Linked DNA regions of Homo sapiens. The protein of the gene in region 2 purifies or fractionates together with the protein of the main gene of each other region. This does not show direct contact. Each region holds a gene or a part of one and is shown on either strand. Other genes may lie near its edges. The genes, in order: POLR2E, POLR3C and POLR3H.

Evidence for each region.
Region 1: the proteins of POLR3C (region 2) and POLR2E purify together in Homo sapiens (affinity purification with mass spectrometry; 5 studies listed by BioGRID and IntAct, with this or other methods). This does not show direct contact.
Region 3: the proteins of POLR3C (region 2) and POLR3H purify together in Homo sapiens (affinity purification with mass spectrometry; 5 studies listed by BioGRID and IntAct, with this or other methods). This does not show direct contact.

The regions. Positions count from the first base shown.
Region 1 is NC_000019.10:1,088,630-1,092,375, forward strand, and holds part of POLR2E (DNA-directed RNA polymerases I, II, and III subunit RPABC1), read right to left. Parts: intron 3,279-3,746; coding exon 3,163-3,278; intron 2,360-3,162; coding exon 2,279-2,359; intron 1,517-2,278; coding exon 1,458-1,516; intron 1,337-1,457; coding exon of another isoform or gene 1,334-1,336; coding exon 1,255-1,333; intron 923-1,254; coding exon 857-922; 3' UTR 843-856; intron 92-842; 3' UTR 1-91. UniProt on the Homo sapiens protein: DNA-dependent RNA polymerase catalyzes the transcription of DNA into RNA using the four ribonucleoside triphosphates as substrates.
Region 2 is NC_000001.11:145,834,179-145,837,924, forward strand, and holds part of POLR3C (DNA-directed RNA polymerase III subunit RPC3), read left to right. Parts: intron 1-2,315; coding exon 2,316-2,396; intron 2,397-2,636; coding exon 2,637-2,688; intron 2,689-2,839; coding exon of another isoform or gene 2,840-2,842; exon of another isoform or gene 2,843-3,313; intron 3,314-3,357; coding exon 3,358-3,418; intron 3,419-3,746. UniProt on the Homo sapiens protein: DNA-dependent RNA polymerase catalyzes the transcription of DNA into RNA using the four ribonucleoside triphosphates as substrates.
Region 3 is NC_000022.11:41,537,732-41,541,477, reverse strand, and holds part of POLR3H (DNA-directed RNA polymerase III subunit RPC8), read left to right. Parts: intron 1-682; coding exon 683-779; intron 780-3,746.

The DNA.
Region 1 (3,746 bases), on a different chromosome or scaffold from region 2:
GCAGCCGTGAGAGCTGTGGGGGCCGGATTCTGGCAGGGCAGGGGCGTTTGTCCTGCAGGGATGGGGGTCGCTGTGTGTCCGCCTCTAGGGGCTAGGAAAGGGGGAGAGTGGTCACACGACAGGGGCAGATCCAGTATGCCCAGGACAGCACAACGCCCACCGAACGTGACGGGGTGCGGGAGGCCTGGCAGGAGGCGGCCCAGGCCGCAGTGCAGAGGCCGGACGGCTCCCTTGTGCCCAGCGGTCACACAGGCGTGGGCAGTAGCTCTGACCTCAAAGGAACCGTGCCAGCGTCAGACCAGGCCAAGCCCCACCCCTGGGCTGAGTGTGAAGTGGGGCGGCCTGCAGGACAGCAGCTCGCCATGACCAGAGTCCAGGGGAAGCTGGGAGGCTCTCGCCATGGGCAGAGGCTGTCCCGCTCCTGAGACTCCGGCCAGTCCCTCCCAAGGTGCCCACTCAGGGAAGGGTTGGCCTGAAGCTGTGCCTCCTCTCTCAGCTCTGGGGTCTCTGGGCAGGTTTCTAAACCCTCTTCTGGAAAGTCCCGCCGCACAACTGCCCTGCAGGTGAACGTCTCCTGCTTCTAAGGTGGGTCAGCGGCGGAGAGACGCACGCCCCGCGTACCAGGACTCTCCCGTCCAGGCGCACAGCCCCAAGAGCTGCAGCCTACGGTCGGGTGGGGTCTGGGGGTCTGGGGGTGTCCTGGGAGCGCCTGGTGGCCCAGCTGGGCTGGTGCTAGGAGGGTCTTGCTGCCGGACAAAGCAAGAACAGCCCTGCACACCGACGGAGGGGACGACACCCCTGCCTCTGACCCCACCTCAGTGCCTGTCCCTCGGCCGTCTCACCTGTCAGGCGGTAGCTACTGCACCAGCCGGTAGGTGATGTACCTGCCAGCCGTCTCACTGGGCCGGATGATCTTCACCACCTGCAGAGACAGAGAGCAGGGGCTGCGAATGCTTGAGGGGTCTCACTGCAGTCACCAGACAGCAGGCGGGCAGCACACGGGCTGGGGATGGCCGGCAGGGGTCCGAGATGGCTGACCCTGGGCTGTGGGACCCGCTCCCTGGGAACCTGGGTCACGCTCTTCTCTGGGCCCAGTGGCCCTGGCTTTAAGAGGGGGATATTGGGGGTGTGGTCTCGAGGTCCCCTCCAGGCCCTGGATCAAGGGGGAGGGGCTGTCGGGGAGGGACAGAAGCCCCCTTCTCCGAGTGGTCAGCTCAGAGCAGCCCCAGGGCCCCTTCTCCCCACAGGGCTCACCTGCCCACGCTTTATCCCAAAGTAGCGCGCCACAGGGTCCCCCGCCTGGATCCTGGGCAGCTGGTTCTCTCGGAGCTTACTGCGAAGCACCGTCAGGAAAATGCCAGACAGGGCCGTTGGGGGGGCAGGGGTGTGTGTGGGGGGGGAACGCGGAAGTCTCGAGGGACAGGGAGGGGCGGGGCCGGTGGGGCTGGAAAGGATACTATCGGGCCAGCAGCTCTGTCACCTCCTCCTTGGTCATGACGACGTGCTCAGGGACTAGCTGCCGAGAGAGGAAGCCACCAGGCATCACCAAGGGCTGGTGAGACCCCACGTGGCTCCCAGGTGCCACCACAGCCCCTGCGCCTTCAGACGGACAAGAGCCCTGAACCCCACCCCGATCCCCGGCACTCAGGGAGCCCACCCACCCCACCCTGGCTCCACAGGCGGGGGACGGAGTCACAGCTCCTGGGGCTTCTGAGGCAGACGGGCTGGGCACAGCCACCTCCTGCTGGGACTCCTCCTGTCCCAGCACTAGGGTCCCTCCACACTCCCAGCAGTCCCGATTCTACAGGCTGGGGTGGGCCCGGGATCTGCATTTTTTTTTTTTTTTTTTTTTTTGAGATGGAGTCTTGCTCTGTCTCCCAGGCTGGAGTGCAGTGGCACAATCTCGGCTCCCCGAGTAGCTGGGACTACAGGCGCTCGCCACCACGCCTGGCTAATTTTTTTGTATTTTTAGTAGAGACGGGGTTTCACCGTGTTAGCCAGGATGGTCTGGAACTCCTGACCTCGTGATCCGCCCGCCTCGGCCTCCCAAAGTGCTGGGATTACATGTGTGAGCCACCGCGCCCGGCCGGGATCTGCATTTCTAGGAAGCTCCCGGGTTCGGCTGCTGCAGGCCCAGGGCCACCCTTTGAGAACCCTGTCCTCCATGCACTAATAGGAACACCTGCCCTGGGCCCCAGATCCCACATCTTCCTGGCCACCCACAAACGCTGCATCTCTGCCGGCCCCACGCAGGCGGGATTCCGCGGCGCGCGCCCACCTCGTGCTCCGTGATGTTGATGAGCAGCTCCTGCTGCAGAAACTGCTCCAGGATGTACTTGGGGGCCATGTCGACCAGGGACTGGAAGAGAGCGGCTCTAAGGCACGGCCCGGAGGGGCCCAGACAACCCCAACCCCATTTCCTGCCTCAAGCTACCTGGGGCTTACTCGTGTGCCCCAACAACACACCCACGTCGTGAATCAGAAAACCCCACCGCCAGCCCAGGAGCCTTCAACAGCCCGCCCCTCCCCAGCCTCTCTGCTCATCGAGAGCCTCATCCAGCAGTGAAGTGGCCGTGGAAACTCGGATGTGTTTCCATCCATCACACGCTTCCAGGGGCGGCCCTCAGAGCTGGCAGGGCGACCTCTTCCCCATACAGGGGTGCTGCTCTGTGTGGCTGCGTGAACCCCACAGCTGGTGGGCCAGGGACTAAACTGCTCTGCTGACTGCCCGTCACAGCACAGCAGCCTGGCTCCAGAGTGTCCGACAGACAGACGGGGAACACGGATAGGCCCCTGGAGGACCCCGTGCCGGGCCTCCTCTGCAAGTCCCCCTGGACATCAGCTCAGGATAAAGAACCTCCGGCTCCTGGAATCTGCACCAGGCCGAGGGCTGGAGCCCACAGGAGCTGGCGAGAGGCACAGTGCCCTCCGCCCTGACGCCCCTCCTGAGAGCTGGGGGAGGACGGCGGCTGCCTGGGGTGGGGCCCATGGACGCGGTGGGAGGGAGGCGGTCGGGGCTTGCCGGACATCCCGGCCACATCCTCCAGGGCACCCTGGCTGGCCTGGCCCAAAGCCCAAGGCACGTGGGCCGCCTGTGGGTACTGCTTGCGGGAGGAGGCTGGGGAGGGGGAGAGGCTGGCGGGGTGGGGCAGGGGTGCCCACCTGCTTGGCGGAGGGTGTCATGCCCTGCTGCACCACGATGAGAGCCCGTGTGATGTTCTCCTCCTGCATGCGCTGGCAGTACACCTTGATGGTCTTGATGCCCACCTTGGGCTCCTCTGCAGACAGAGAGTGTGCTGGCCTGCACGAGCCTGGGCCCTCGTGGCCCTCGCCCACCCAGAGCCCAGAGCACCCAGGTTCCAGCCCCATTCCACACAGGTGTCTCTCCTGCTCGGGCCTCGGCTTCCGCGTTTGCAAAACGAGGCCTGAGTTGCAGGATCCCAGGACAGGGGAAGAGAGGGCTGAAACCTCTCATTCACCCGGAGACAGGGACAGGGGGCTGACACCCCTCAGTCACCCAGAGACCAGGGAGAAGCAGAGACCTTCGACTCTGAGAGGCTCCCACCCTGGGCAGTTCTGGGGAGGCGGGTGACTCAGCACCAACCTCTCCAACAAGCAGACCTCACACCCCAGGACGCTCTCTTTAAGAAGCATCACCTGAGGCCGGGTGCGGTGGCTCACACCTGTAATCCTAGCACTTTGGGAGGCTGAGGCAGGTGGATCACTTGAAGTCAACAGTTCTAAAC
Region 2 (3,746 bases):
TGTATCTAAACATCTAATCACAGAAAAGGTACAGTAAAAATATGGTATGAAAAATTAAAAACCACACCTGTTTAGTGCACTTAACATGAATGGAGCTTTCAGGACTAAAAGTTGCCCTGTGGGAGTTAGTGAATGAATGGCAGATTAATGTGAATGTGATGGTCTACACGCTCAGGCTACACTGTATTTATTAAAAACCAGTAACAGGCTGAGCGGGGTGGCTCACGCCTGTAATCCTAGCACTTTGGGAGGCCCAGGCTGGTGGGTTGCCTGAGCTCAGGCGTTTGAGACCAGCCTGGGCAACATGGTGAAACCCATCTACTAAAATACAAAAAAAAAAAAAAAAATTAGCCGGGCATGGTGGCATGCGCCTGTGGTCCCAGCTACTCGGGAGGCTGAGGCAGGAGAATTGCTTGAACCCAGGAGGCAGAGGTTGCAGTGAGCCAAGATCATACCACTGCACTCCAGCCTCACCACACATGTGAGTAATGTGTTTCACAACGGCATTGTGCTATGATGTTACAACAGCTATGACATCACAAAGCAGTAGGAATTTTTCAGCTCCAGTATAATATGGGACCACAGCTGCACACGGTCCGTTGTTGACTAAAATGTTATATGGTGCATGACTGTGTTTAAATATTCCTATATTTTTATATTGTTTATTTTAAAGTTCTATGGCCAGGTGCAGTGACTCACACTTGTAATCCTAGAACTTTGGGAGGTTGAGGCAGAAGGATCCCTTGAGGCCAGGAGTTGAAGACCAACCTGGGCAACATGACAAGACCCCCGTCTCTACAAAAAATTTTTTTAAAAAATTAGTTGGGTGTGGTGCCATATGCCTGTAGTCACAGCTATTCGAGAGGCTGAGGCAGGAGGATTGCTTGAGCCCAAGAGTTGAGGTTGCAGTCAACTATGATCATGCCACTGCACTCCAGCTTAAACAACAGAGCAAAACCCTATTTCAAAAAAAAAAAAAAAAAAAAAAGGCCGGACGCAGCAGCTCACACCCGTAATCCCAGTACTTTGGGTGGCCGAGGCAGGCAGATCACCTGAGGAGTTCAAGACCAGCATAGTCCAACATGGTGAAACCTCATCTCTACTAAAATTACAGAAATTAGCCAGGCATGGTGATGGGCGCCTGTAATCCCAGCTACTTGGGAGGCTGAGGCAGGAGAATCGCTTGAACCCGGGAATGGGAGGTTGCAGTGAGCTGAGATCGCACCACTGCACTCTAGCCTGGGAAACAGAGTGAGACTCTGTCTCAAAAAAAAAAAAAAAGTTTGGTATATATCTTTATTCAGACCTTGCATACTCTAACATATATGTGGGTATATGTATTTTTTAACCCCAAAATGGGACTATTCATATGGCTTTTTGGTTGGGTTTTGTTTGTTTGTTTTTGTTTTTTTGTGACAGAGTCTTGTACTCTTTCACCCAGGCTGGAGTGCAGTAGCGCAATCTCAGCTCACTGCAACCTCCGCCTCCTGGGTTCAAGGCATTCTCCTGCTCATCCTTCCGAGTAGCTGAGATCACAGGCACATGCCACCACGCCAGGCTAATTTTTGTATTTTTAGTAGAGACAGGGTTTCACTGTGTTGGCCAGGCTGGTCTCGAACTCCTGACATCAAGTGATCCTCCCACCTCAGCCTCTCAAAGTGCTGGCATTACAAAGTCGTGATCCACCACACCCAACCTAGTCATACTGTTCTATAACTTGATTTTTTATATGACAGTGTATGTAAAACTTCCTTTCATGTTAGTTTCTGTAGATTTGTCTCACTCTTCATAATGACTGTATCATATTCCACTTAATGGCCGTGCTATATTTTATTTTAGTGTACTCGGTACTGGTCATTTGGGTGTTTCTAGTTTTTTACTCTTACAAACAATCCTGCTGTGAATATTTTTGGACAGTTTTGTGGTAACTAAAATTAAAACTTTTTTTTTTTTTTTTTTGAGACGGAGTTTCGCCCTTGTAGCCCAGGCTGGAGTCCATTGGCGCAATCTCGGCTCACTGCAACCTCTGCCTCCCAGGTTCAAGCAGTTCTCCTGCCTCAGCCTCCCAAATAGCTGGGATTACAGGCATGCGCCACCACGTCCAGCTAATTCTGTATTTTTACTAGAGACGGGGTTTCACCATATTGGTCAGGCTGGTCTCCAACTCTTGACCCAAAGTGATCCACCTGCCTCAGCCTCCCAAAGTGTTCGGATTACAGGCCTTAGCCACTGTGCCCGGCCTAAAACATCTTTATTTCAGTAAGGTCAGGAGTTCTAAGTTCCCAAACCCATTTTAAGTGTCCTTTGCTCCATAGATCTTCAGATCCCTACCTGTTGGCTATAACATCTCTAAGCAAGTTCTTGATCAGTATCTCACTCTGCTGGCAGATGATCCAGTAAGTCTGTTTTTGCTTTTTTTCTTTTTTCTTTAGCCTGTACTGTTGATAATTTATTTCTGCACTGATACCTAGTGTCATCCTCCTGCAGAGTTATTCTCTACCTAGCCAGCCCAGACAATTTCTCCACATCATTTGATAGGAGGGCTACCTGCTGCAGACTTTTGGTCAGATTTGTTCCATTGGAAACAGAATCACTGGACTTTCCGTTCAGTTAACACTCTCTCTTTTTCTTAATAGCTAGAGTTTGTTGGAAAGTCTGGCGACAGTGGTGGAGGAATGTATGTCATCAGTATCCTTACCAGTTATTTCCTTAGAGTCAGGCAGCCTGACCTATAAATCAGAATGGTGCCTTAGGAAAGAAAGATTTGGTAATGTTTATTATACTAAATAAATTAGAAAATTGAAGTAATTGTTAAATAAATTTTTCTATGAATTTTCAGTGAACTGCATTGATGATGAAGTAAAAAGAGGCCAGGCATGGTGGACTTTGGGAGGCTGAGGCAGGTGAATTGCATGAACCCAGGAGTTCAAGATCAGCTAAGCAACATGGCAAAACCCCATCTCTACCAAAAATACAAAAACTAGCCAGCTGTAACGATGCATGCTTGTAGTCCAGCTCCTCAGGAGGCTGAGGTGGGAGGATCGCTAGAGCCCAGGAGACAGACGTTGCAGTAAGCTGAGATCATGCCACTGTACTCCAACCTGGGTGACCCTGTCTCAAAAAAGAAAAGGAAAAAGGACTTTTAATCAACCAAATTTTAGTTAAGCAAAACCCTTACTTAAACACTTGTATTAAAGTTTTGGAATATTTATGTACCATGACTGAAACCATAAATTATAACATGAAAAACAAAATAGCATTTAAAATTTAATTATAAATTAGAAACTTAGGAATAAAACTCAGATCACAATAACTAGGCCAAAACATTACTGAGTGACCTTAATTCTCTACATAAAGACCTCCATAAGGCATTAGCATCCCTAGCCACAGCCACTCTGGAGTCCGTCGTACAGGAGAGGTAAGGGGGACACTGGTTGGGTTTGGGATCACATACTTCCTATCCCCAGTGAAGTAATTTGATCATTATGTAAGCCACCAATATAACCACACCTTGGCATACTTTTCCCCATTTTTTCACTGGACTCCTATGGATCTCATGTAATACTGCTCTTTACCTTAAAATAACCTACTGTTTAATTCCTACCGATGCAAATTAACCAGCCTCCCTAAAGCCTTTGCTTACAAATGTAGGAACTGTGGCACTCAAATGAGTCAGCAGTTGGTGACTGCCTTATGATTAACAGCAGTTGGTGATGCCTTACCATCACCAACCTATGGAGCTGTAG
Region 3 (3,746 bases), on a different chromosome or scaffold from region 2:
ATAAGGAGACACTGAGTAGCCAGTCGTTTGAACCACAGTGGTGTGGGGTGAGGGCATGGGATTTCTGCACATTCTTGGGGCCTAGGTCTTGTGTCCCTCTGCCAGCTGCAGTCCCTGTGGCTGCGTCTGTGTGTCTGAGATGTTGTGAGCACAGTGGGGTTTAGCTGTGGCTGTGACGCTCACTAAACTGTGAGCTCTGGCATTGGCTTTGGGATGTCGGAGAGTGCACGTTTAGGCAGCATTCCTGTCACTGGTCCTCACTAGTAATAACAAAGATCCTTGATGATGATGGTTTCCAATACACGAGCCAGGTACAAGGCTAGGGGCTTCACATCTGTTATCTCTCTTTATTTTATAACTCTGCAGCCTGGTATTTCACATTTGCAGATGGGGAGACCGAGGCTCAGAGAGGTGAAGTGACCCTCTTGGCAGTCACACAGTGGGTGGTGGAGCTGGCCTTGGAACCTGGACCTGTTTTGTCACCCGAGGCCCTGCTCCTTCCAGAGCTCTGCATCCTTCTGAGGTTCCTTACCCTGGTCCCCTCCACAAACTCATTTTCACCTAAAAAAGGAGATAATCATGGCTTGCTTGTGGTTGTGAGGGGCTCAGATTGCCTGGGAGCTGGGCCTGTGGTCACTCTGTATCCATGTGTACTTGTGTGTCTGTGTTTGTATGCATGCAGGTCGTGTACAACGTGGGACTCTGCATTTGTCTGTTTGATATCACCAAACTGGAGGATGCCTATGTATTCCCTGGGGATGGCGCATCACACACCAAAGGTGGGTATCTTCTGTCCCTGGGGCATTGGGCTTCTTGGGGCTCAGTTTTCTGTAGCCAAAGGTCAAGCCAAATCCAGGTTCAGTGGTGCGTGCCTGTAAGGCTGAGGGCGGAAGGATCTCTTGAGCCACAGAGTTCAAGGCCAGCCTGGGCAACATAGCAAGACCCTGTCTTTAAATACATAAATAAAATATGAAAAAATTTTAAAAGGCTAAAGTCAAAGAGATGGCCAGAGGGTGGTGGGAGTCCTGGAGGCTGGGAGACGTGGGGCCTCATCCTGAATCGGCCAGGAATTGACCCGGTGACAGCGGCAGACTTCTCTTCTCTGGGCCTCTGTTCCCTCATCTGTGAGGCCTGGGATGTGGACTAGTTGGTTTTCAAGGCCTCTTCAGCTCTGACTTCATAGCTCTGTGTCTGTGCCCTTTTGGTCTCATTGCTACTGAGCCCTGCACCTTGTCCATTCCTCGGGCTTCCCGCTGCCTGTGGAGAGCAGACGGAAGGGGGATCAGCAGGCTGGCTGGGGGTGGGGGACTTGGATAGTAGGACACAGTAGGTAAGAGTGTGGCCTCAAGATTAAAAGCTGAGCTCTGCTTCTTACTAGCTGTGTGTCCTGGCTGAATATGTCATTGCTCTGTGCCTCTGCTTCCTTATCTGTCAGTTGCAGTTCAGGATGTCAACTGCAGTTTAGGATAGATTTTATATTCTAAGACCATTGTGAGGATTAAGGAGTTAATACATGAAAGCTCTTAGGACAGAGCCTTGGCACCTAACGAGCACTCAGTGACTTATCAGCGTGGATTGTTTCTCCCTATTCTGTCGGTCAGTTGGGTGGTTTTCCTCTCATCTGGCTGGCCTGGGGCTGGACAATCTAGGACGGTCTCACATTCTGAAGGTTGGCAGACTGGTTGGTTACTGGGGGCCTGGGCTGGGCTGGCCCATCTCTGCCCCACATGGTCTCATCTTTCAGTAGGCCAGGCTGGGCTTGGCGGTTTTAAGGTTCCAAAGTTCAGTGCGTAAGTACTTCTCAAGCCTCTGCTTCCATCCCGTTGGCTAGGGTGAGGGGATGGAGAAATAGACTTCACCTCTGGGTGGGAGAAACTGCAGTCACATTGCAAAAGGGTGTGCATCCAGGAATGGAAGGTGATCACCAGATCCTGGAAGGAGGGAGGAGTAGAGAGAGGACCACCCTGAGAGGAGCCAGGACCACCAGTCAAGGGAGGTGATGAGCCCCAGGAGAGGGGCATTCTTCATTCTCATGTCTGGACCAAACCAGTGTATAGGAGATGGTGAGAGGCCCATTGAGACGGTTCAGGCTCCCAGAGCGCAGGCGCCAAGCCTGCCATCCCTTGGGCACTCAGAGCGCAATTCTCAGCCTGCCCCAGGCCTCCCTCCGCCTGAGTCAGAATCTTGGGGGATGGGTCCAAATACTTTTTTTTTTTTTTAAGACAGAGTCTTGCTCTGTTGCCCAGGTTGGAGTGCAGAAGTGTGATCTTGGCTCACTGCAACCTCCACCTCCCAGCATCAAGCAATTCTCCTGCCTCAGCCTCCCGAGTAGCTGGGATTATAGGCACGTGCCACCACGCCTGGCTAATTTTTGTATTTTTAGTAGAGGGGGTTTCACCATGTTGGTCAGAATGGTCTCGAACGCCTGACCTCGTGATCCGCCCACCTCGGCCTCCCAAAGTGCTGGGATTACAGGCGTGAGCCACTGCCCCCAGCCCCAAAGACTGTTTTAACAAGGTACCAGGTGGTTGTCACACGAGCTCATGTTGGATAAGCCCTGCTGTAGTCCATACTGGTCAGCCTCTCAGCACAGAGATGCCAGAACATTCCAGAGTATGCTGTGAGACTGCCTAGTGTCTGTGTCCAGCCATTCAGGGAATTAATTAGTTCGCATGGATGTTACCATGGTACGCCGAGAGGCCGAAGAAACAGGCTGTCTTTGTACAGACTAGGAGCATTTTCATTAGCAGAGAAATAAGATTGCAGTGTGAAAACAACCACGAGGGCCTCTGTTTACAGAGAAGGATGCCGAGCTGAGCCCAGTCTCCGCATTTGGACAGGGGCCTTGGTTGTCCAGGAGACAAGTGGTAATAGGTACTAGAACTTCCAGAAAAACTTGGAGAAAAAAGTCAAGTTGCGGCCGGGTGTGGTGGCTCACGCTTGTAATCCCAGAACTTTGGGAGGTAAAGGCGGGTGCATCACCTGAGGTCAGGAGTTCTAGACCAGCCTGGCCAACATGGCAAAACCTCATCTCTACTAAAACTACAAAAAAAGCCAGGCACGATGGCTCACTTCTGTAATCCCAGCACTTTGGGAGGCCGAGGCGGGCAGATCATGAGGTCAGGAGATCTCCTGGCTAACACGGTGAAACCCTGTCTCTACTAAAAATACAAAACATTAGCCAGGTGTGGCGGCAGGCACCTGTAGTCCCAGCTACTCAGGAGGCTGAGGCAGGAGAATGGAGTGAACCCAGGAGGCGGAGCTTGCAGTGAACCGAGATCGCACCACTGCACTCCAGCCTGGGCAACAGAGTGAAACTCCGTCTCAAAAAAAAAAAAAAAAAAATTATTTGGGTGTGGTGGCACATGTCTGTAATCCCAGCTACTCCGGAGGCTGAGGCAGGAGAATCGCTTGAACCCAGGAGGCAGAGGTTGCAGTGAGCTGAGATTGTGCCACTGCACTCCACCCTAGGCGACAGGGTGAGACTGTATCTCAAAAAAAAAAAAAAAAAATTAGCCAGGTCTGGTGGTGTACACACCTGTAATCTCAGCTCCCTGGGAGGTGGAGGTGGAGGCAGGAGAATCGCTTGAACCCAGGAGGCCAAGAACACGCCGCTGCACTCCAGCTGGGTGACAGAGAGAGACCCCGTCTCAAAAAAAAAAAGTTGGAGGAAATTCTGTCTATTCAATTGGAAGATTTCTACTGCTGGCTTTTATTAGCCCCCACCCTCATCTGTCCTGAGTCTC